Homo sapiens: one gene and its partners. The protein of the gene in region 2 purifies or fractionates together with the protein of the main gene of each other region. This does not show direct contact. Each region holds a gene or a part of one and is shown on either strand. Other genes may lie near its edges.

What was found.
Region 1: the proteins of ANKS1B (region 2) and ARHGAP26 purify together in Homo sapiens (affinity purification with mass spectrometry; one large-scale study listed by BioGRID and IntAct). This does not show direct contact.
Region 3: the proteins of ANKS1B (region 2) and RIN2 purify together in Homo sapiens (affinity purification with mass spectrometry; one large-scale study listed by BioGRID and IntAct). This does not show direct contact.
Region 4: the proteins of ANKS1B (region 2) and RASAL2 purify together in Homo sapiens (affinity purification with mass spectrometry; one large-scale study listed by BioGRID and IntAct). This does not show direct contact.
Region 5: the proteins of ANKS1B (region 2) and DAB2IP purify together in Homo sapiens (affinity purification with mass spectrometry; one large-scale study listed by BioGRID and IntAct). This does not show direct contact.

The regions. Positions count from the first base shown.
Region 1 is NC_000005.10:142,768,276-142,773,710, reverse strand, and holds the start of ARHGAP26 (rho GTPase-activating protein 26), read right to left. Parts: upstream 3,335-5,435; 5' UTR 2,950-3,334; coding exon 2,796-2,949; intron 2,485-2,795; exon of another isoform or gene 2,382-2,484; coding exon of another isoform or gene 2,336-2,381; intron 1-2,335. UniProt on the Homo sapiens protein: GTPase-activating protein for RHOA and CDC42. Facilitates mitochondrial quality control by promoting Parkin-mediated recruitment of autophagosomes to damaged mitochondria.
Region 2 is NC_000012.12:99,239,001-99,243,797, forward strand, and holds part of ANKS1B (ankyrin repeat and sterile alpha motif domain-containing protein 1B), read right to left. Parts: intron 1-4,797. UniProt on the Homo sapiens protein: Isoform 2 may participate in the regulation of nucleoplasmic coilin protein interactions in neuronal and transformed cells. Isoform 3 can regulate global protein synthesis by altering nucleolar numbers.
Region 3 is NC_000020.11:19,988,081-19,992,877, reverse strand, and holds part of RIN2 (ras and Rab interactor 2), read right to left. Parts: intron 2,873-4,797; coding exon 2,567-2,872; intron 711-2,566; coding exon 579-710; intron 1-578. UniProt on the Homo sapiens protein: Ras effector protein. May function as an upstream activator and/or downstream effector for RAB5B in endocytic pathway. May function as a guanine nucleotide exchange (GEF) of RAB5B, required for activating the RAB5 proteins by exchanging bound GDP for free GTP.
Region 4 is NC_000001.11:178,096,710-178,101,506, reverse strand, and holds part of RASAL2 (ras GTPase-activating protein nGAP), read right to left. Parts: intron 1-4,797. UniProt on the Homo sapiens protein: Inhibitory regulator of the Ras-cyclic AMP pathway.
Region 5 is NC_000009.12:121,780,217-121,784,211, forward strand, and holds part of DAB2IP (disabled homolog 2-interacting protein), read left to right. Parts: intron 1-1,247; coding exon 1,248-1,335; intron 1,336-2,114; coding exon 2,115-2,282; 3' UTR 2,283-3,319; coding exon of another isoform or gene 3,320-3,329; 3' UTR 3,330-3,995. UniProt on the Homo sapiens protein: Functions as a scaffold protein implicated in the regulation of a large spectrum of both general and specialized signaling pathways.

The DNA of each region.
Region 1 (5,435 bases), on a different chromosome or scaffold from region 2:
TCATCTGTCCCTCTAGCCTTCAAAGCCCGTGATGGAGAAAGAACTCCAAAACTTCAGAGGATAATACAAAATCTTAGCTGGTCTTTGCTACCCAGGGCTCGGAGTCTAAAAAACAACTGGCAATGTTTTCACTTAATCAAGCACCTGCTGCATGTTTCTCCTTTACGGGATCTAGATCTATAAAGAATTTGCATCTCCATTGCCAGCATCTCATTCATAAAGTGGAAGTAATAGTAACAATGATCTACCTGAACTTTGGCAATCCCTAGAGGACAGTTTTATTGCCTATGATTAACACTCAAAACCAAGTTAAATCCAAAGAGCTAGAAATACTAGTTATAAAATAACTGTAAAATAAAATAAAATATGGCTATAAAATAAAGCCACAAAAGTTTAGAGCTATAAGAGAACATAGATTATCTAAACCCAGTGTTTATATAATTATGTATTTATGTTTAAGTTGTACTGGGAAAACACTTCTGTTTATAGATATAATAAACATGACTGAAGAAAAATAATACACAAACATTAATATAGTAGTATACCACGCAGCAAGCATCTCATGATATCGGAATGTCTGAAATCCAGGACACAATGGTTGACTCCACCCTCTATTTTTAGAGGTCACCTGACCTGATCAAGTAGTAGTTAGTAGTGGTAGAATACATTAGCAGAGCTGGACGTAGAGAGAACAGAACACCGAGATCCCCATCAGTCTTTCCTCCAGATTACAGGGCTGATCCATTCCATTAGACAGCTTAAATAACACTTCAACTCTATCACTGCAATGTTTCTTCCTACCAAAGAATTCTTGCCCCCAAAAACTAGTGGTAGGAAAACTGCCAGTCACCCAAACGCACCCTCCTCAGATTCAATGCCAAAATAGAAAACACAAGTCCAAATTCTAGGGCTTGGTGCAAGAGGTTCCATTCCGGGCAAGTGAGATGGGGCAGAAGTCAAGAGCTCTGCACTGGCAGGGACTCCATCTCTGGCTCAAACCAGGTGGATTCAAAAGCTCTGGTCCTGCTGCTAGAGCTGTGTGACTCAGAGGTAATGCTTCCCCCAGTCTCTGTTTTCTCATTTGCAGAATGAATCTAAGCACATGAGATAATTATATGTGAAGCAGTGCCTGGAATGAAGTACACCTCTGTAAGCACAGGAGCAGCAAAATATTCACTCCTACACCCTTAGTGCCCAGTGCAGTACCCAGTACACCACAATCACACCAAAAGTTTGCTGAGTGAAGCAGAGAACTCACTAAAGCCAGCCTGAGGTTCAATCAAAATTCCTGGGCCCAACCTGTAAGTGGGCCCCTAACTTACTCCAAACCAGGGACCCCCATCCCCTAAACCAAGAATGGCCTTGATTATTGACAAAGGAAGGGTCTGTTCATATGTTTCAGGTAAGGCACAGCCTAAGAATCTGCCTCTAAGAAGCCTCATCACATCACAGTCCTGTGTTCATTTCATCCCAAAAGATTGGCACTTTGGGCTGCCCTGGCATTCCATTGTCTCTCTCTTCATTTTTAGAAGCAACAAGCTGACAAAATGACATCTCAGGCACCTGACTTTTGTAAGTGCCCTTTAAAGAGGCCTGGGAACAATTCCCACAGCTACGACTCTACTCTGCTAAGGCAAGATTTCTTAGCTGAAAGGTATCACCTACTAAGAAATCCATCACAGAAACAGATACAGTAACAGAGTCAGAGACAATTCCACTATCTGCCTTCATGTGGTTCCTGATTCTTAAAACTAAAAGATGGACTGAGCTATTTTTAAATGGGGAGACTGAAAAGGCACCAAAAACGTTCTCACAATCCAAAGCACTCATCCCTAGAGCACGCTTATTTGGCCAGAAAAAGAAACTCTCTGGCTCTGCAAAAGTGAAGCAGAATGCAAAATTGCATCTCTCCCCTTGTACCAAAAGGAAAAAACGCAAAAATGGTTTTACAAAAGGTCCAAGAATCTTTGAAATACGTTTGAACTTCTTTCTGAGAATTATGGATATTCCTTCTCAGACCTTTACAAGGATAACGGAAGAGGTAAAAAGGAGAGCTTGGGAGCAGGAGAGGGAGAGAGTTGGGATATGTACATTCTATTTTTAAACCCTCGCCCACAGTTTAGAGTAAAGGAACACTCTGATTCTCTACTCCCACCCCTATCACCTTCTGCTAAACACAAGAATCAGAACCTGCGCACGTACTGATTCCAGATTTAGAGATTACTGGCTGCCAATACTCCAAGGAATCGCAAGCTAACCAAGCATTCCACCCAGGGAACCCGGCGGCCTGACTAGGCTGGAGCTGCGTACAGGGAGCGAAGCAGTCACAACCCACCTTTTCCCAAGGGGAGGCAGCGCCCCCTCGGCAGGGCACGCTCCATTCTCACGGTTGGGCACTCAAGGCTGAGCAACTCTGCCCCTAAGGGAGCTGGAGCTGTGGACACGATGGGATCTGCCCGCTGGCTGCGGCGCGCTCGGCACTCTGGCCCCACTGCTGGGACACCTGCGTGCCGCGCACGCCCACGCCCACCCGCGCTGCCCCAGAGCACCACCCGCGCTGGGTCACCTCCCGACCATCCCTGAACGCAAAAGGCGGAGCGACGGGTCTCTCTCTTCATCTGATGGTTGCTGGTTCGCCCGCTTTACGTATCCTTCCTGCCTCGGAGGCGTCGACACCCGTCCCCCAGTGTACCGGGAGCAGAAACCCGGCAGACGCGCGGGCAACCCGGGCTAAGCGCCACCTCCCAGTTCCTCCCGCCCCGGAGCCGCGTCCCCGAGGGGCTCGGGACACTCACTCTTGAGCGCGCTTATGAGTGACTTCCCGTCCTTGATGAGCTCCTTGATGAATTTGTTGGTCTTGTCCAGCTCTGCTTCGTGCGACTTGAGCGTCTCTCGGAAGTGCGGACTATCGAGGCAGCAGTCGCTGAACTCGAGCGCTGGGAGCCCCATGGTGCGCGCGGCGCCCAGCCGGGGGGCGCGCCTCCGCCGGGGCCCGGGCCGCCCGCCGCCCAGAGCACTCACGCGGCGGGACCCCGGCCGGCTCCCCCGACGGCCGCCGGCTCCACAGGTGTGGCGCTGGCTCACTCCGCGCGCGGTGTCCGCCGGCGCGCAAGACTCCCGAACCGAGCTCGGACCCGGCCGAGGTGCTGCTGTTCCGGGCGCGGGCAACGGAGCGGATCGCGAGCAGGAAACGCAGCGCGGACCCGCAGCGGCGCCGGGAAGCGAGCGAGCGGGCGAGCGAGTGCAGACGCCGCCTCCCCGCCTCCTTCGCTAGCTAGCTCTCGGCAGCCTCGAGCGCCCTCTCACAGCAGCCTCGGCCGCCCCGCCGGTGTCTGGGCCGCTCGAACCTGCTAGCGATGACTTAATCCCCGCCGGGCCAATCAGCGCACCCTCCCCTGCCCGACCCTCAGGCCGCCCGAGGACGCCCGGCCCTTCCGCGGTCTTGATCCAATCAAAGGGGCCTGGAGGCAGGGTCTGCGGCTGGGGGCGTGGCCCTCGCCAACGCCTAGGTCCGCAGCGCAAACTCCGCCTCCTCTTGCCCTCCCAGCGTTGCAGACCCCGAAACCTAGGGGTGAGCGTTGCTGTGCACCCGCCCCCGCTACCTTGCCCGCCTGCTCCAGCCCGAATCCGAGCCACGCATGGCGAGTCTGCTGGTCCTGGGGGCCGAAGAGCCTCGATGTGCCAAGCATGAAAAACCTGGGGACTAGGGCTGCAGTTCACCACCGCCTGCCCTGCACTGCGGGGCAACCGATTTTACACTCAAAATACAGCCCCCTGCTCCGGGAGAATCCCGAGCGACCAAACGCTCCTCTTCCAGTCAGGCAGAAAAATGTTATTTGCATCTTAAAATTACCAGCTCTTGCCTGCAGTCTTCCCGCCCCCTACGGTCCGTCCCCCTCACGGCCACTCCTGCTCAGAACCCGCCCACGGTTCCCCTCAGCCGAAGGAGCTCACATCATTACTAGAATTTCAGCCGCCTGTTATTTTCCTGCTCTGCATCTAGCACAATTTTACATAATAAGATGACAGTCTACTGCCTGTCATCCTTCGCTACACGGTAAGCCCCACGAGGGCAAGTGCCCCTGCAATTTTCTTGTCCGCTGTTGCATCCTGGCACCTAGCACAGTGGCTGGCATTTAATAACAGATATTGAGCACTTACTATGTGCTGTGTGTGCTACGGTGATTGATAAATGTAGAATAAATGAATGGATCCTTTCCCAGAGCCATCTCCACCTCCCACGCCCAGTGCGTTGCCCTGTAGTCCCTCTGTTCGACCGCAGGACTCAATTCTGGCATCTCACTCGTTGCACTTGTCAGGCTGGGTCCCACAGGGTGTCTAGTGCTGAATTGTTAACTCCTGGAGGATAGGGACTGTCCTTGAATAAATTATCTCTATGTCTAGGAACCAGCAGCCCTCCTTCAGCTACGTGGGGGCTTCATGTTTGTTTGGGTTGGTTTGTTTTTTAAATAGGTCTGCTATGTGCAGGCACTAGCCTAGATGGTAAGAATACAAAGATGAATAACAGAATGAATTTAGCTGCTGGTGGTATTAGGTGAGATGGAAGCAAACAAGCGATAACCATGCCTTGTGATAGGATAGAAGGCCTGGGTGCTTGGGAACATGGATTTTTCACTCAGGAGGGGTCAGAGGTGTCCCATCTATATTAAGAAAGCAATTAATGTATTAAATTCATAAATGGAGCATGGTGGCTCACACCTGTAATCCATAACTTTTGGAGGCCAGGTGAGAGGATTGCTTGGGGTCAAGAGTTCAAGACCATCTTGGGCAACACAGCGAGACCCCCCCCATCTCTACAAAAAATTGTAAAATAAATAAGTAAATGTATAAATAAGTGAATGTGATCTCTTTGATAGGTGTATCTACAAATTTAGACTTGATAGCAGGTCCAGACAGCTATCTGATAGATAATTACAACCCAAAAACAATTGTTCTTCACTTGCCAAAGATGAGAAAGATCTAGAATGGAAACCCTATGAAAGTAAATCTGTTTAATGCTTTATCTTGAGCACCTAAAGGTAGGTGTTCTGGTTATCTATTAATACAGAATAAATGATACCAAAAGTTAATGGTTTAAGACAACAGCAATCATTTTATTTTCTCTCACAATCTCTGTGGGTTAGAAATTTAGGGAAGCCAAAGGCTTGAGGTCTCTCATGTGATTGCAGTTGGATGGTGACAGGAGCTGGAGGAGTGGATGGTTAGCTGGGCATCCCACTTTTCAGGTAGACTCAGGGCTTCTCCATATGGCCTTTCTCTGTGGCCCAGTTTAGGCTTCCTCCCAGTATGGCAGCCTTAAGGCTCCAGTGTGAACATATACAGCTCACAAGGAGAAAGGTGCATCACCTTTTATGACCTAGCCTTGTGAGGTGAGAGGCCTGCAGGACTTGTTTTCCAATCACAACCCCACTGAT
Region 2 (4,797 bases):
GCCTCTTCTCCTCCAAAGGATTGCAGCTCCTCGCCAGCAAGTGAACAAAACTAGACAGAGAATGAGTTTGATGAGTTGACAGAAGTAGCCTTCAGAAGGTTGGAATAACAAACTCCTCTGAGCTAAAGGATCATATTCTAACCCATCTCAAGGAAGCTAAAAACCCTGAAAAAAGGTTAGACAAATGGCTAACTAGAATAAACGGTGTAAAGAAGACTTTAAATGACCTGATGGAACTGAAAACCAAAGCACAAGAACCTCATGATGCATGCACAAGCATCAATAGCTGATTTGATCAAGTGGAAGAAAGGATAACAGTGATGGAAGATCAAATAAATGAAATAAAGCAAGAAGACAAGATTAGAGAAAAAAGAGTGAAAAGAAATGAACAAAGCCTCCAAGAAATATGGGACTATGTGAAAAGACCAAATATACATTTGATTGGTGTACCAGAAAGTGACAGGGAGAATGAACCAAGTTAGAAAACACTCTTCAGGATATTATCTAGGAGAACTTCCCGAATCTAGCAAGGCAGGCCAACATTCAAATTCAGGAAATACAGAGAACACCACAAAGATACTCCTCAAGAAGAGCAACCCCAAGACACATAATCATCAGATTCAACAAGGTTGAAATGAAGGAAAAAATGTTAAGGGCAGCCAGAGAGAAAGGTTGGGTTACCCACAAAGGGAAGCCCATTAGACTAACAGTGGATCTCTTGGCAGAAACATTACAAGCAAGAAGAGAGTGGGGGCCGATATTCAACATTCTTAAAGAAAAGAATTTTCAACCCAGAATCTCATATCCAGCCAAATTATGCTTCATAAATGAAGGAGAAATAAAATCCTTTACAGACAAGCAAATGCTGAGAGATTTTGTCACCACCAGGCCTACCTTACAAGAGCTCCTGAAGAAAGCACTAAACATGGAAAGGAACAACCGGTACCAGCCACTGCAAAAACATGCCAAATTGTAAAGACCATCAACGCTATGAGGAAACTGTGGAATTAACAGGCAAAATAACCAGCTAACATAATGATAGGGTCAAATTCAAAGATAACAATATTAACCTTAAATGTAAATAGGCTAAATGTCCCTATTAAAAGACACAGACTGGAAAATTGGATAAAGAGCCAAGACCCATCAGTGTGCTGTATTCAGGAGACACATCTCACATGCAGAGACACACATAGGCTCAAAATAAAGGGATGGAGGAAGATCTACCAAGCAAATGGAAAACAAAAAAAAGCACGGATTGCAATCCTAGTCTCTGATAAAACAGATTTTAAACCAACAAGATCAAAAGAGACAAAGAAGGCCACTATATAATGGTAAACGGATCAATTCAACAAGAAGAGCTAACTATCCTAAATATATAGGCACCCAATACAGGAGTAACCAGAATCATAAAGCAAGTCCTTAGAGACCGACAAAGAGACATAGACTCCCATACAATAATAATGATAGACTTTAACACCCCACTGCCAATATTAGACAGATCAATAAGAGAGAAAGTTAACAAGGATATCCAGGACTTGAACTCAGCTCTGGACCAAGCGGACATAATAGACATCTACAGAACTGCATACCCCAAATCTTCTCAGCACCACATCCCACTTATTCTAAAATTGACCACATAGTTAGAAGTAAAACACTCCTCAGCAAATGTAAAAGAGCAGAAATCATAACAAACCGTCTCTAAAACCACAGTGCAATCAAATTAGAACTCAGGATTAAGAAATTCACTCAAAACTGCTCAACTACGTGGAAACTGAACAACCTGCTCCTGAGTGACTACTGGGTAAATAACAAAATGAAGGCAGAAATAAAGATGTTCTTTGAAACCAATGAGAACAAAGACACATTGTACCAGAATCTCTGGGATACATTTAAAGCAGCGTGTAGAGGGAAACTTATAGCACTAAATGCCCACAAGAGAAAGCAGGAAAGATCTAAAATTGACACGCTAACATCACAATTAAAAGAACTAGAGAAACAAGAGCAAACAAATTCAAAAGCTAGCAGAAGACAAGAAATAATTAAGATCAGAGCAGAATTGAAGGAGATAGAGACACAAAAAATCCTTCACAAAATCAATGAATCCAGGAGCTGGTTTTTTGAAAAGATCAACAAAATTGATATACCACTAGCAAGACTAATAAAGAAGAAAAGAGAGAAGAATCAAACAGATGCAATAAAAAATGATAAAGGGGATATCACCACCAATCCCACAGAAATACAAACTACCATCAGAGAATACTATAAACACCTCTACGCAAATGAAGTAGAAAATCTAGAAGAAATGGGTAAATTCCTGGACACATACACCTTCCCAAGACTAAACCAGGAAGAAGTTGAATCTCTGAATAGACCAATAACAGGTTCTGAAATTGAGGCAATAATAAATAGCCTACCAACTAAAAAAAGTCCAGGACAAGACAAATTCACAGCCGAGTTCTACCAGAGGTACAAAGAGGAACTGGTACCATTCCTTCTGAAACTTTTCCAATCAATAGAAAAAGAGGGAATCCTCCCTAACTCATTTTATGAGGCCAGCATCATCTTGATACCAAAGCCTGGCAGAGACACAACAACAAAAGAGAATTTTATGCCAATATCCCTGATGAACATTGATGTGAAAATCCTCAGTAAAATACTAGCAAACTGAATCCAGCAGCACATCAAGAAGCTTATCCACCACGATCAGATTGGCTTCATCCCTGGGAGGCCAGGTTGGTTCAACATACACAAATCAATAAATGTAATCCATCACATAAACAGAACCAACAACAAAAAGGACATGATTATCTCAGTAGATGCAGAAAAGGCCTTTGACAAAATTCAACAGCCCTTCATGCTAAAAACTCTCAATAAACTAGGTATTGATGGAATGTATCTCAAAATAATAAGAGCTATTTATGACAAACCCACAGCCAATATCATACTGAACGGGCAAAAACTGGAAGCATTCCCTTTGAAAACCGGCGAAAGACAGGGATGCCCTCTCTCACCACTCCTATTCAAAATAGTGTTGGAAGTTCTGGCCAGAGCAATCAGGCAAGAGAATGACATAAATCAATTAGAAAAAGAGGAAGTCAAATTGTCTCTGTTTGCAGATGATATGATTGTATATTTAGAAAACCCAATCATTTTAGCCCAAAATCTCCTTAAGCTGATAAGCAACTTCAGCAAAATCTCAGGATACAAAATCAATCTGCAAAAATCACAAGCATTCCTATACACCAATAATAGACAAACAGAAAGTCAAAACATGAGTGAACTCCCATTCACAATTACTACAAAGAGAATAAAATACCTAGGAATCCAATTTACAAGGGATGTGAAGGACCTCTTTAACCAGAACTACAAACCACTGCTCAATGAAATAAAAGAGGACACAAACAAATGGAAGAACATTCCATGCTCATGGATAAGAAGAATCAATATCGTGAAAATGGCCACACCACCCAAGGTAATTTATAGATTCAATGCTATCCCCATCAAGTTGCCACTGACTTTCTTCACAGAATTGGAAAAACTACTTTACAATTCATATGGAACCAAAAAAGAGCCTGTGGAGCCAAGACAATCCTAAGCAAAAAGAACAAACCAGGAGGCATCATGCTATCTGACTTCAAATTATTCTACAAGGCTACAGTAAACAAAACAGCATGATTCTGGTACCAAAACAGATATATAGACCAATGGAACAGAACAGAGGCCTCAGATATAACAACACACATCTACAACCATCTGATCTTCAACAAACCTGACAAAAACAAGCAATGGGGAAAGGATTCCCTATTTAATAAATGGTGCTGGGAAAACTGGCTAGCCATATGTAGAAAGCTGAAACTGGATCCCTTCCTCACACCATATACAAAAATTAACTCAAGATGGCTTAATGACTTTAATGTAAGACCTAACACCATAAAAATCCTAGAAGAAAACCTAGGCAATACCATTCAGGACATAGGCATGGGCAAAGACTTCATGACTAAAACACCAAAAGCAATGGCAACAAAAGCCAGAATAGACAAATGGGATCTAATTAAACTAAAGAGATTCCACACAGCAAAAGAAAAGGCAACCTACAGAATGCGAGAAAATTTTTGCAATCTACCCATCTGACAAAGGGTTAATATCCAAAATCTACAAAGAACTTAAACAAATTTACAAGAGAAAAACAAATAATCCCATCAAAAAGTGGGCAAAGGTTATGAACAGACACTTCTCAAAAGAAGACATCTATCTAGCCAACAGACACATGAAAAAATGCTCATCCTCACTGGTCATCAGAGAAATGCAAATCAAAACCACAGTGAGATACCATCTCAAGCCAGTTAGAATGGCGATCATTAAAAAGTCAGGAAACAACAGATGCTGGAGAGGACGTGGAGAAATAGGAATGCTTTTACACTGTTTGTGGGAGCATAAATTAGTTCAACCATTGTGGAAGACAGTGTGGCGATTCCTCAAGGATCTAGAACTAGAAATACCATTTGACCCAGCCATCCCATTACTGGGTATATACCTAAAGGATCATAAATCATGTTACTATGAAGACACATGCACACGTATGTTTATTGTGGCACTATTCACAATAGCAAAGACTTGGAACCAACCCAAATGTCCACCAGTGATAGACTGGATTAAGAAAATGTGGCACATATACACCATGGAATACTATGCAGCCATTAAAAGGATGAGCTCATGTCCTTTGCAGGGACATGGATGAAGCAGGAAACCATCATTCTCAGCAAACTGTCACAAGGACAGAAAACCAAACACCACATG
Region 3 (4,797 bases), on a different chromosome or scaffold from region 2:
AATTTTAAAAAATAAAAACAAAGCCAAGCTTTTATCCATTTCACTAATATAAGAGCAGGTTATTTTCCTGGCAATGGAAATATCCTCAACAAAAGTTTATAATTTCCTCTTGGAGCCAAAGAAACCATTTCTTCCAAAAAAAATGGCATTTATTCTACTGAATGTATTTTTTTTATTGCCATTAAGCAATCTTAGTGAAGTATAGTTAAGATGGGGTTATATTTTTTCTTTGTGTTTTTCCTGACTTTTCCAAATTTTCTACCACGAGTGTGTATTACTTTTGCAATCAGAAAAAGGTTAGTACACTCTTTTAAATTAATAAAAAATTCAGTTAACACTTAAGATGTCAAAAAAGCACCCAAGTAACTGCTTCATGGGTGCAGAATTTTATTTTAGGGTGAGGAAAATAGTTTGACACTAAATAAAGGTGGAGAATGCATGACATTGTGAATATACTAAATGCCACTGAATTATTCACTGTAAAATGATTAATGTTATGTGACATGAATTTCGTCTCAATTATAAAAAAATGAAAAAAATAGCACCCAGTTCCTTCAACTTTTCTCAAAAGCAGTTACCTTCTCCATGTAACAGCGATGGGTCTAGGAGCTCCATCATGTACTCGATTTCAGTGTCCAATTCAAGCATGTCACACTGGGCTATGACATAGGTCAGGACTGGCAAGAAGTCATCAGCGCCATACATCCTCCCTGAGAGCAGGAAGAGAAGGAGATGGAATATTTTTACCAACTTTTCTTTCTTTCACATCCTTCTTGCTGCTTTTATTAGACAGCAAGGAGTCACTCTGGGGGGAACTGTGCTATTTATAAACAGAGGTGAGTGTTTCTGGAATCCTATGTAGCCTCTGACCCTCCCAGCTGCTAATGTTAGAGACCAGCCCTTACAGTTTCAGAATGAATGTCTATGAACCAATGAACACATTACAGATTTTCTCCCTACTTTTATAATTTGTATAAAATTATGTGATAGAACAGAATACTCGTTAAAATATTTTAACTTTCAGCAAACAAGATTATAAAATGCTTACAAAATATTTACTTATGCTAATTCTTTGTGTCTTACTTCCTCTTTCTTGCTGTGCACATTATTTACAAACATAATGACAAGGTCAAACTCAAACCAGGAATAAGCTAACTTTGCTCTGTATTTAATGTGAGCACACAGTTAATTTCTTTAAACGTGCCAATTCAGTACATGTTGAATATACACATTGATTAATGGAAATATATGGCAAAAAATGTTAGTGTTTACTTCTAGTTTTCTTTACATCAGTGGTTCTCAACTGGAGATAATTTTGTCCCCCAGGGGACATTTGGCACTGTCTGAAGACATTTTTCATTGACATAACTGGAGGGTGGGGATGCAGATGACATCTGGAATGCTGCTAAACTTCCTACAGGAAGCAGGGCAGCCCCCAAAAGAAGAATTATCCTGTCTACATTAATGTCTTTAGTGTGTGTGTTGAGGAACTGTGCTTCAGAAGAGCATAATCCTTCTGAATTATTTGGGGAATTCAGATATTCAGATATTATTTGGGGAATTTTTATAAATAACTGTGAACTATAGAAAATATGTTTCCTATATGTGAAATATGCTTGCAAACTTGTGAGGTGATGTTCACTTGCTATCATTACCACGCCCAGGAGCTCATATTTTAACTTCTTCACTCAACAATTCCCAAAGTGCACACACATTCCTGTCTACTCAAGCAGTGGTTAATACAGCCTGTGTTTTCTCTCTGCTGCTTCTCCATTAAGCAATTTCACTCAGAAGAAAAGTTCGTAATCGTCTTCAGAATTACAATAAGCTTACTGAAGACCTGGGACAATGCAGGGCTCCATTACTATCCAGGATTCATGGTTACCCCTGCATCTACAGGAAACAACAAGGCTAAATCTGAGGGCTGGCTTTCCAAGATTGTAACTCTTCGGTGAATTTCAATTATATTGCTTCAGCTTGTAGCAAAGAAGGGCTAGCCAATGAAGCGGCTCTAATGAGGCCTCATTATAACTGAATGTTCAGAGTTTCTTTCACATACTATAGGTCATTGACACAAACCCTCATTGGCCAAAATGTTGTAATGATAATCGCTGACATTTCCATTGCACTTGGGGCTATGTGTGGGCTGTCTCAGCTAATCCCCACCTCATGAAAGAAAGGGTGACATCCGGCTAAAGACGCAGAAAACTACAGCGTGCAAGGTTGATTAAGGGGGCCAAAGTCCCTCAGTTAATTTTCTTCTTCTCGGAGGGAAGATTTGAACTCAGACTCCAGAGACTGAATTTGTAACCATACTCTGAACTAAATCTTTAATTAAATCGGCCTGGTACAAAAATCTTGTTGCCCTCATCTGCTTACATTTTAATCTGTTGCATGTGACTAATGTGCCGGATATCAGAGAATCACTTGTAGTTCTGTAAGCCACTTGGTGAAATCAAGAGACCAAAGGGAGGAGAAATTGGGAATCAGAAAGCCTGACAGGAGAGAGGCCTGTCCCCGGCCCGGAAGGGAAGCGGCACGAAGCCTGGGCTTCCAGCGGCCTCACCTGAGTTGTTCTCCATGACCGTGTAAATGAGCTTGCAGACCCGCAGCAGCAGCATGACCTTCTTTTCCGGCGAATACATCTTCTGCATGGTCATGAACTTGACTTTGATTTTCTCCACATCCACAAAATCAGGGGTCGGGGCGAAGACCCCCAGCTCCTGCGGATTCCTCTGCCGCACAAGCTGCAGGTTCTCCTTGAGTTGCTTCCATGAGCCATCGGCCATGTGAAAGTCCTTCAGCATGGCCTCCACGTGCCCCTTGAGGGGCTTCAAGATGCACTTGTGCATGGCTTTTTCCAGCACCACATCTGCCAAAGAAAGTGTAGCTACTATGACTATTGTCTGAAGAAAGAAGAAATGCAACATCTGCTTTCTTACAATGGACATCTGCAACTCTATGCATTGGTTGCAGGCACACAAATTGTACACCTTAACATCCAACCAACAGACAACACCAAGCAGCGCCATAACTCACATGTTAACATTTTTCTCTGAAAAGCCAGGAAGACCGAATCTTCCCCAATGATGTCTAACTTGCATATAATCAATACAATGAAATATATTTGTTTTAATTACTTTCATGCCCTATCCCTGTAAGTACAGGCAAATATGCTAGAAGACATTCTTTTGACCTAGTCCTTCAACTGGTCATCCAATTAACAGGAGAGCAAAGATGTTATCTTAAAGGAAGGATTTTCTAATAATGAGCATTCAACATCTCTTAGAATATTTTCTGAGGGCCAGGCGTGGTAGCTCACATCTGTAATCCCAGCACTTTGGGAGGCTGAGGCAGGCAGATCATTTGAGGTCAAGAGTTGGAGACCAGCCTGATCAACATAGTGAAACCCCATCTCTACTAAAAATACAAAAAAATTAGCTGGGCATGGTGGTGCACGCTTGTAGTCCCAGCTACTGGGGAGGCTGAGGCAGGAGAATTGTTTGAACCCAAGAGGCAGAGGTTGCAGTGAGCCAAGATTGTGCCACTGCACTCCAACCTGGGTGACAGAGTGATACTCCATCTCAAAAAAAAAAAAAAAAAAAGAATGTTTTCTGAGGAAATAGATCCACCTAAATATAGTATGTGATCTTGGATCAGATTCTGGACTAAAAAATTCTTCATTTGCTATAAAGGACATTAGTGGGGCATCGAATACAGCCTGCAGATAAGGTAATAGTGCTAACAAGGCATCAGTGTTAATTTTCTAGGTCTGATAATTATACTGTAGTTATTAAACAGAATAGCCTTGTTTTTAGGAAATATGCATTGAAGTATTTAGGGGTAAAGGGATATAATGTCTGCAACTTAAATGGTTCAGAAAAAATGAGAGACAGTGTGTGTGCACGTATTTGTGTGCATGTATGTGTACGTGCATGTATCTGTGTGTGTGCACGCGTGTGTGTGTGTGTGTGTGAAGAGAGAGAAAGAAGAATGAGGCAGATGTGGCGAAGTGCTAACATTTGGGAATCTGAGTGAAGGGTAGATATTTCTTTATGATATTTTTGCAACTTTCCTGGAAATCTGAAATGATTTCAAAATTAAAAGTTAAAAATGTGTGAAATGTGTTTCTGTTCCGAGTTAGGAAACACCTTTGGGTGTGGGAGGCGTTATTCTTCCCTCCTTCATTGAATGGTTTCCCAGTGGAGTAGCTTTCTTGGCTAATACTAAAATGACCAGTACCATAAATCCAGAGATGCGGGCTGAAGGCTATTTATATAATAATAACTCCTCTGCTTTGTCAATAGCAGCTTTTTGACCTCACACGTTTGCACATTCTCATCTGAGCCCCTTGGGTTCTGCTGCAGCATCTACGCATAAAATGATGACACCTTAATTTTATTCCATTTGGGAAGCCAATGGGTCCACTTACATATAAGATCAGAAATAGTTAAGTTAGGCCAGGCATGGCGGCTCATGACTGTAATCCCAGCACTTTGGGAGGCTGGGGTGGGCAGATCACTTGAGGCCAGGGGTTCAAGACCAGCCTGGCCAACACAGCGAAATCCCATCACTACCAAAAATACAAAAAATTAGCTTGGCGTTGTGGCGCACACCTGTAATACCAACTACTCTGGAGGCTGGGGCATGAGAATCTCTTGAACCCTGGAGGCAAAGCTTGCAGTGAGCCGAGATCCTGCCACTGCACTCCAGCCTGAGTGACAGAATGAGACTCTGTCTCAAAAGAAAAAGCAAAAGAAATAGTTGAGTTGTCTCTCTGGCCTTTGGAATTCCTGA
Region 4 (4,797 bases), on a different chromosome or scaffold from region 2:
CTCAGGGATGGAGGTAAGGGGTACTTTTAGAAAGTCTGCTACAAGTGACACAATGTGAATGGAACTCGAGCAATGTTGAAGATAATTTATGGAGGGGTAAAAATACAATCAGGATCTAAACTGAACCCTTATGAGCAAAGCCAACAAAGACAATTAATTGATGTTACTAACACCTGGTAAGGGAAGGTAAAATTCAGACAGCTCATATCTGAACCCAGCTGTAGAGATTAGGAAAGTGATAACTTCTGTATCATAGTCTAGCAAATGAAATGTTTTTATGCCTTTAAGGGTTCAATTTTTATTTCTTTTGTTTACTGTATACTCACTAACACCACTGCACTGGGCCTCAAGACTTCTCTTTTCCCTTCTACTTGTGAACCACATTACTTCTTGATGGGCTGCCCTCTCACTATAAAATAAACTACATGAAATTTGCAAAAGGGTTTTCTACATGCTAGCCTTAAGAAGTACTTGACAGCCTTTGGGAAGAAAGGTGTTTTTACAAACATCAGACAGCAATTATCCCTCTACCAAGATAGGGTGAAGCAATTTTAGCAGTGCCCTTAGCACACTTCAAACTCCTCCTCCTGGTTAACAAGACCAAACAACTCTCTAGTTAGTTAAAAGTTTTTCCAATAGGGAGGGACAAGGGAGCAAACAGCTGAAGTTTTTCTGAATTAACTGTCATTAGTTGAATGCTTTTTTGTGGTTCACCTACTTAAAAGGTGATCAAATCACTTTGTGCTACTGAAGAAAGCAACTGCAAAGAACAATTACATAAACCCTCTATTTCAACTTACCTCATCCTTCCTTCTAATGAAACAAAGGATCCGAAACCACTACCTTGCCACCATTTCCTTAATAATCTTGGTAAAGCCTACTATGTCATGTGAATCTCTTTTCTTTTTCTTAGCAAACCACAGAAATTTCACTCACTATAGTAGGAAACACAACTGTACAACTTTTTTTTTTTTTTTTTATTTGAGACTGAGTCTCGCTCTGTTGCCCAGGCTGGAGTGCAGTGGCACGATCTCAGCTAGCTGCAACCTCTCCCTCCTGGGCTCAAGCGATTCTCGTGCCTCAGCATCCCGAGTAGCTGGGATTACAGATGTGCCACCATGCCCTGCTAATTTTTTTTTTTTTTTGTATTTATAGTAGAGACAAGGTTTCACCATGTTGGCCAGGCTGGTCTCAAACTCCTTACCTCAGGTGATCCGCCCACCTTGGCCTCCTAAAGTGCTGGAATTATGGGCATAAGCCACCGCGCCCGGCCCATTTTTAAAAATGTGTTCAGTAAATGTTATTATCTGAAAAAGATAAAGGATATCCACACAAACTATTCTTAAAGAGGGGTGTTCTAGAACTTTGTATTATTTATGTCTGAAGATTTGTACAGATCCTCAATTCCATATCTGCAATTCCTAAATCAAAAAAGCTCTGAAAAGCAAAAGACTGTATGCAACTTTTCTGGCAGTAAAGTCTGACCTGCACTGACATAAGGCTATTTATAGTCTTTATACCACTTGGTATGATTTTGTTTTTTTTTTGAGATAGTCTCACTCTGTCACCCAGGCTGCAGTGCAACGGTGGAATCACAGCTCACTGCAATCTCCCCCTCCCTGGTTCAAGCGATTCTCCTGCCTCAGCCTCCCAAGTAGCTGGGATTACAGGTGCATGCCACCACACCCGGCTAATTTCTTTGTACTTTAGTAGAAACGGGGTTTCACCATGTTGGCCAGGCTGGTCTTGAACTCCTGACCTCAAGTGATCCACCTGCCTCGGCCTCCCAAAGTGCTGGGATTACAGGCGTGAGCCACCACGCCCGGCCTATTCACTTGTTTAACTGCAGAAATATTAACATAACTGTCTAGTCCAAATGGTTTTGGAAAAGAGATTGTGGATGTATAATTCTATTCCTTAAAAATATTTTCACTGTTTGAAAATCAAATAGCAGTGAACCAACATGATAGAGGGTAGAACAATACTAAGATGTTATAAATGAAACTATCACCTACATTAATAGAGCACACAATTTAAATAAGACATACAAATTTTCTCTCAAAAGAAGAAAAAAGGGGGCTATTTAAAGTCACTTAAACAGTACATGCCTAGGCATTCTTAGAAGTTCTCTCTGATTTCAATGAAAAACTGTCTATTCTTAATGTGTTTTAATGTATTTGGAAATCATTGGAAACTAATACATCAACAAGCCTATGCCACATCCTAAGTATTGAACTCAAGCTTAAGATTCCAAAAATTTCTAAAATATGACTACTCAGGTGTAAAGATTCAATTAACAGTACCTGAGGAAATTAAGACATTTAAGGAACATGAACATGTTTGGGGATGTATTTTATACACACTCACTGATTTTCTTCTAGCCATACTAGTTGCAACATTTTAAATAAATTTAGAGACATAACCTCTAGAAACGTAACTTTTAAAAATCTCATCCTGTGTCTTAATTGGTGAGGCGTAAGCAGTATCATATAATACAACCAGATATGACTTCTGTCTCATCAGCTCATATTCACTTCTTGAATATGAACTTCTATTAATTCTTACCGAATTCCCACTGCCACATTTCTGGAATTATAAGGTACTTAATGAAGTATGATTAATTCCCTTTTTCTTCTGTTTGCTTAAATAGTACTAGCCCTTTGAAATTTTCCAGCAGGTCCCTATGTTGTTATCAATAAACAATGAGCTGTATACAAGCTTAATGGTAATAATGTTGATGCTATTCATTTTCTTAACAGAATATTTTACCTAATTCCTTCTGATAATATTAAAATTTAAAAGTACAAGATTTCTTGTTGATCCCTTTCTTGTGCTGATTATATTTCCCTTCTAACTCTCCAAGAGCATATCTGAGCACATACTTGCAGACCTGTCATACTGATGAGTGCAGAGCTCCACCGCAGGCAATCCTAGAGATTGGGATCTTAAATTTCTCCCAGAGTGTCCTACACTCCCCATCCATTCATGGTAAAGTATTTAATTTTAATGTTCTCATTGTTTACCAGAAAGCACAGACAGTGAGGCTGGCTTTGCCACTCCCGTTTCCTTTCGCTATGCTGCTGAGCTTTTTCAGCCAATTGACTTTGCTTTGAGGCTATAAATATCTGAAAAATGTTCTGCATTTGATGCTCTTGGATTCTGTATCCATATTTAGCTGTTTGTGGCATGCCTTTGTTTAAGCTACTCTACCACCCATACAGTCAGTCAGGTTGAGATCTGGATGGTCAAAGGACAAACGGATCAACATACAACAGACACTGACTTACTATGAGCAAGGTACCAATCTGGCAGACAAGTTGACAATGAAGGGGGTGGCAAGATAAGAATACAAAGATAAACAAGGCTCCCTGATATCAAAAATTTTATAGTCTTGACAAGGCATGGGCACAACTTATAATACTGGAATAAAACAAATGAAACATTTTACAACTACAAGGAAATGAAGATTAGGACAGACAGCACAAATATTTTTCTCTCAGCCACATCTCAAAAATGTGCATTAGTTTGTGTTCTAAATATAGAGCCACCTATTATAAAGCTCTGAACATATTCCAGAAAAGTTTTCCAAATCATGGCAATACACAAAACCCTGAGTATACGTATTATGACAATATATACATATGTACACAATATATATGTATTATCAACCAAGGAGCCAAACCTGTCAACAAGAAACTCAAAACAGTGCCTAGTCTTCAAATTTTGTGAGGCAAACTAATAAAATATTGTTTCTAGAAGTTCCTGTTAAGATATTCTTTGGGGGGTTACTTCTGTTGTTGTTTGTTCCCATCATGATTTCAAACAGAAGTATATTGCAGGAGATGCAAATTGCACTTAATAAAGTTCCTTATTATTATCCTACCTTTAGAACCCACATGGCTATGTAGGTTAGGTCTCAAAACTGGATGAACTAGACCTAAGCAACATCGCCATACTCATCTTCCTATCTTGTGAAAACATTCCAAATAAATAAACATCTGCCTTCAATATATCTTCTTTGAAAACTCAGTTCACTGACCTTTTGATAAAACTGCTCCCCAGAATTCCCTGACAATCATGATTTAAATGCATTAAGTTAAGGGCTTGGTTAATGCCTGGCCCCAAGAGCCAGGATAAAGATTATAGGCCAACCTGCAGGTAAAATAATGGGCCAAGCCACAGAATCAGACAACTTTAAAGCTAAAAGGGACCACAGATACCAATTACTCCAGATTCCACTTTTATGCTGAAACCTAGAGGCCATGAGTTAAAACTACCTGCCCAGAATTAGACAACCAACTTGTGGCAAAGCCAGAATGAAACCAATACTCTAAGCTTCTAGTTGTATCCTCTAGACTAGGTTCCCAATTTGTAGATTTCCCTGAAACATGTTAGACTACACTCATCAAAGTCTCTTTAAATTGTGAGAAGAACCTAGGTGATCCAAGACAACGAAGGTTTTGAACACACAGACAAGAAACAAGAAAAACAAAAATTCTGTATTCTCCAAATTGTTTTTCTACATTCTATTACTTTTATTTCAAAGTTTTTACTTCAAAGTTTTCAAACATACACCCTGTTCATACAATAGGCAACTTAAAACTAGCTAAGGACATAGCCAAGAGTCATTCCAATAGTTCTGAAATATTTACATAAACTAAAGACAACAAAATAGTATCCAGGATGAGCTGCCTCAGAGGAAGGAAAGTAGCAATACTAAACAATAAATAAAAACAACTTCTGGTTAATTGATAGAGAAAACAAAAAAAGTTACAATGCAGTGGTAAGTCTGCAATT
Region 5 (3,995 bases), on a different chromosome or scaffold from region 2:
AATCTCCTTCCAATCTAATTTTCCTTAATAAAACAAATACCCTCCTGCCACCCCACCCCCAGCACAAGCTTTCCTCAGAGTGATACCTTCCTGTACTGGGGAACCTGCCCCGGAGGGTCCCCCCCGCCACCACCGCTCCTCCCAGTTAGTGCTCCCTGAACTGCTGCCCTGCTGCCCCCATTACAGTCCCGTGCAGAACCGGCCCCGGCACAGTGGCTCCCTGTGTGTCTTCTGTGAGTGGGCTAAGTGCTTGCCCAGTGTGCGGTGGCTGCTCTAGGCTGGAGGAATCAAGAGGGCAGGGATGGAGAGAAGCCTTGGGAGTGGAGGGCTCATCTAAGAGTGTGTGGAGCAAGGAGAAGGGAGGCTGAGGCCAAAGCCCTGTGGACCCCCATGTCCAGAGGCAGACAGGACAAGGCATCTAGGAGACAGGCAGACCCAGAGAGTGTGGGGTCTCAAAGCCAAAGGAGAGTGGGAAGGTGGGAGTGCCCAGCAGTGAGAGTGTCTCAGGAACCAGCCAGGTGGGGCCAGGAGGGCTCCCAGGCAGGGAGCAGCAGGACGGAGCCGGCCTCCTGCCCACTGAGCTTCCGCGGGTGGTATGTCCCCCAGCTACTGCTCATTGTTCTGCCTGCACACCTGTCCTTCAGATGTCTCCTACTGATGTGCGACCTCCCAGCCCACCCTCCAGGGAACGTCACTGCTTCCTGCTCTTTGTTCCAGGGACCTGAGCTTTCCACTAGCGCAGCTGCTCCGTGCAGGGTGTAGTTAGTTACTCGTGCCTCCTGCCTTGTGAACTCCTTGAGGGAAAGGACTAGAGTTCATTCATCTTGGCACCTCGCGTACAACTTTGTGAAGATGGCGGGGGCAGGGTGGAAAAAGTTCTAGAGCCTTTCAGGGCCTTCGTCTTTCCACCACCTGCCTAGCTCTAGGGGTTTGAAGATCTAATGCCCATTTCCACCCATCTTGGCTCCTGGAAGAACATCGGGAAAGGGGCAGCCCGGGGGCCTCTGGGGCTTTAGGAGCAGCGAGTGTGGGATGTGGAGGTGAGGAAGGAGGCCCAGCAGTGTCAGTTGCTGGGAGTCGGCTGGAGGGCCTCTGCCCCAGGCAAGTATGGGAGGCAAGTCTCTGACCCAAGGAGGGGCTCTCCTAGTGTGTCCCTGCTGTGTGCGGGGGTGATGGGCTTGTTCTCACACCCTCCCCACCTCTGCTGCCTCCAGGGCCAGTCTGACTGTCTCTGTCTCTGGCTATAGGTTGATGTCCGTGGAGGAAGAACTGAAGAAGGACCACGCAGAGATGCAAGCGGCTGTGGACTCCAAACAGAAGATCATTGATGCCCAGGTGGGGGCTCCGGCCCTTTGGTCAGCCACAAGAGTTAAAGGGCCTGGGATTAGGAGGGGTGACTAGCCTCTCCATCCTCAGTCATACCTCACTGCAGACACTGAGGGGAATAAGAAACCAGAATCTGCCCTGAGAAGTCAGACCTGTGGTCTTAGTGGGCCACAAGCTCACTAGGACAGGCTGTGAAAGGAGAGAGGCAGCTCCTCCCCTGCCAGGGCTCTTGGCGGGCATTGTCTTTCACCAGGACTGCTGACCAAAGAGTGGAAGCCACCAGGAGGGCAGTGGGGGTAGGAGTGAAGGCAGGCTGGTCAGAGGGAGCAGTGGGGCTCTCGTTCACAACTATGGCATCCGGGCTGCATTGAGGGGAGACGTGAAAGGCTCTGTGGCCCCAGCCTCCTTTACTCAGGGCTGCACCGCTTTCCTTTCACTCACCCAGGAGTAGGCTGGGCCTTGCTCAGGCTGTAAACTGCACAGACCAGGAGCTGTGACCTCTGGTGTGTCATGCACACACATGTGAGCAAGGGTGCCTGCCCTAGGGGCCGCAGGCAGCCCATAGACAGCACTAGAGCTGCTGCATTTGGGCTGATAAGCAGGCAGCGAGGCTGTGTCCATGATGCTGCAGAGGCCTCTGCCTACCTTCTCTTGCCAGCTGCTCACAGCCCGGAGCCTGCCTGCCACCCTCATCTCCAGGCCACCCCCTTCCCCGATGCTTGTCGTAGGTATACACAGCCCTAAGGAGCCTGTCCCATGACCCCCGCTCACATCCCCATTGTCCACAGGAGAAGCGCATTGCCTCGTTGGATGCCGCCAATGCCCGCCTCATGAGTGCCCTGACCCAGCTGAAAGAGAGGTACAGCATGCAAGCCCGTAACGGCATCTCCCCCACCAACCCCACCAAATTGCAGATTACTGAGAACGGCGAGTTCAGAAACAGCAGCAATTGTTAACCTGCCTGAGGAGGGAGGAAGCTACCCAAGGAGAGGGGGACTATGGTGGCCAAGGGCAGGGTCTCGGCCTGGGGAGGCACCCACGGTTGCAGCCCCAGCGCGGGTGTCAGGAGGCCGAGCCTCCCCTCCCTGCCGCTGTCCAGGAGGCGGCCGCAGAGGGAGCCACCAGAGACTGAAGCAGCGTGAGGCGAGGTCACCAGCCGCTCCCTGTGGGGTGCGGGCAGAAGAGACTGCACGCTGGGGAGTGGGGACAGCCTGATGGGGCAGGGGGCCTGCCAAAAATATGTCTGTTGGTTCCTGAATGTGGTGTGTCCTTGTCCTCCTGGATCTGGCCGAGTGCATGTGTCCCCCCACACCTGTGCCAGGGAGGGGGCTTCCTGGAGGGGGGATTCAAGGGCTAGGGGCCTACACCTGTGGCTTCCCCTCGCCTCCTTGGGGGGCCCGGGACTCCCTGGCAGCCAGGCCCTGTCATGTGGGACCTGGCACTTGGCAGATCAGTTGGCAGGCAGGAAGATAGGAGGACACAGAGCAGGAGGTCAGTGTCCCCTGCCTGTCTCCATCCGAAGCACCTGCCACTGCATGCAGCCTGTTGGGACCTTCCTGGCTGTGAGGAACTGAGGATTCCTACCCACCCACCCCCTCTGAACCTGTCCCCAGAGCACCACCTGCTACCTTCTTCCCTGCCTTAGTTGTATTGCCAGATAGACCCAGTGAGGGCCATGGCTTTTTCTTGTGAGCTCTTGTCCCTGTGGGGAGGACCCACAGCTTCCCACACCTCCCACACAGGCCCAGGCTGATGCTCTAGGGCTCCCAGAAGCCAGAGATCTGGGCGGATCTGGCCAGATGGCTCTGAGCACTGTATCTGCCTTCTCCTGGGGCCCAGCACACCCAGGGCACAGTGGTCCTGTAGGGAGTGCCACCTGGTGCTCACCCTGAAAGAAAAGGTGATCCTTCCTCTGAGTGATGGTTTAAAAAAAGATTCTAACGCCTGCAGGCCCTGAGAAGGTGGATAACTGTGATTTTTTTTCCTTTCACAGTATGCATTAGAAACAAAAGCCCGCTTGCTCGCTTGCTGGAACACAGGGGCCTTTTAAGTTGAGCGTGCGCACTGCATGGGAAATAGCGGCCCTGGAGGATGTTAGACTTGCTCCCTCTCCAAGACAGCAGCAGCCTGCACCTGCCCCGTGTGTGTGGCCGGCCTCCTCCTCACCCTTCCCGGCCCCCGGCCAAGGACCCAGGCGCTGCATACAGGGGAGGGGCGCACCCCACAGCTGGGGCCGGTTTTCCTCAGCTCTAGGCTGTTCTGTAGCTTATCTGCCCCTCCCCCACTTTCAAGACAGATGAGCAGGAGCTTGGGTCTCTCTCGGCCCCTGTCTGTTCCCAGCCCCTGCAGATTCTGAGCAAAGGCCCTGGGTAAGAAGGGTGGGAGTGGGGCCTTTGCCAGCAGAGCCAGGGCAGGGCGAGCTGCAGGAATCACCCCTCTGCCCCTGCAGCTGGAATGTGCCACAGAGGCCCCACCTGAAGGGTGGATGTGCTGGAGGGGTGGCCCAGAGCCATACTGCGTCCACCCTGAGCTCGGGGACAGGTGACAGTGGCTGCTCTGGGAAGGGGCTTTTAGATGTAACCTACAATTCAGTTAGGCTAGAGACAGATGCTGGTGGAGGAAGGGCTGGGCCACCAGGGATCACAGACCACAGGAAGATGGGAGGTGGA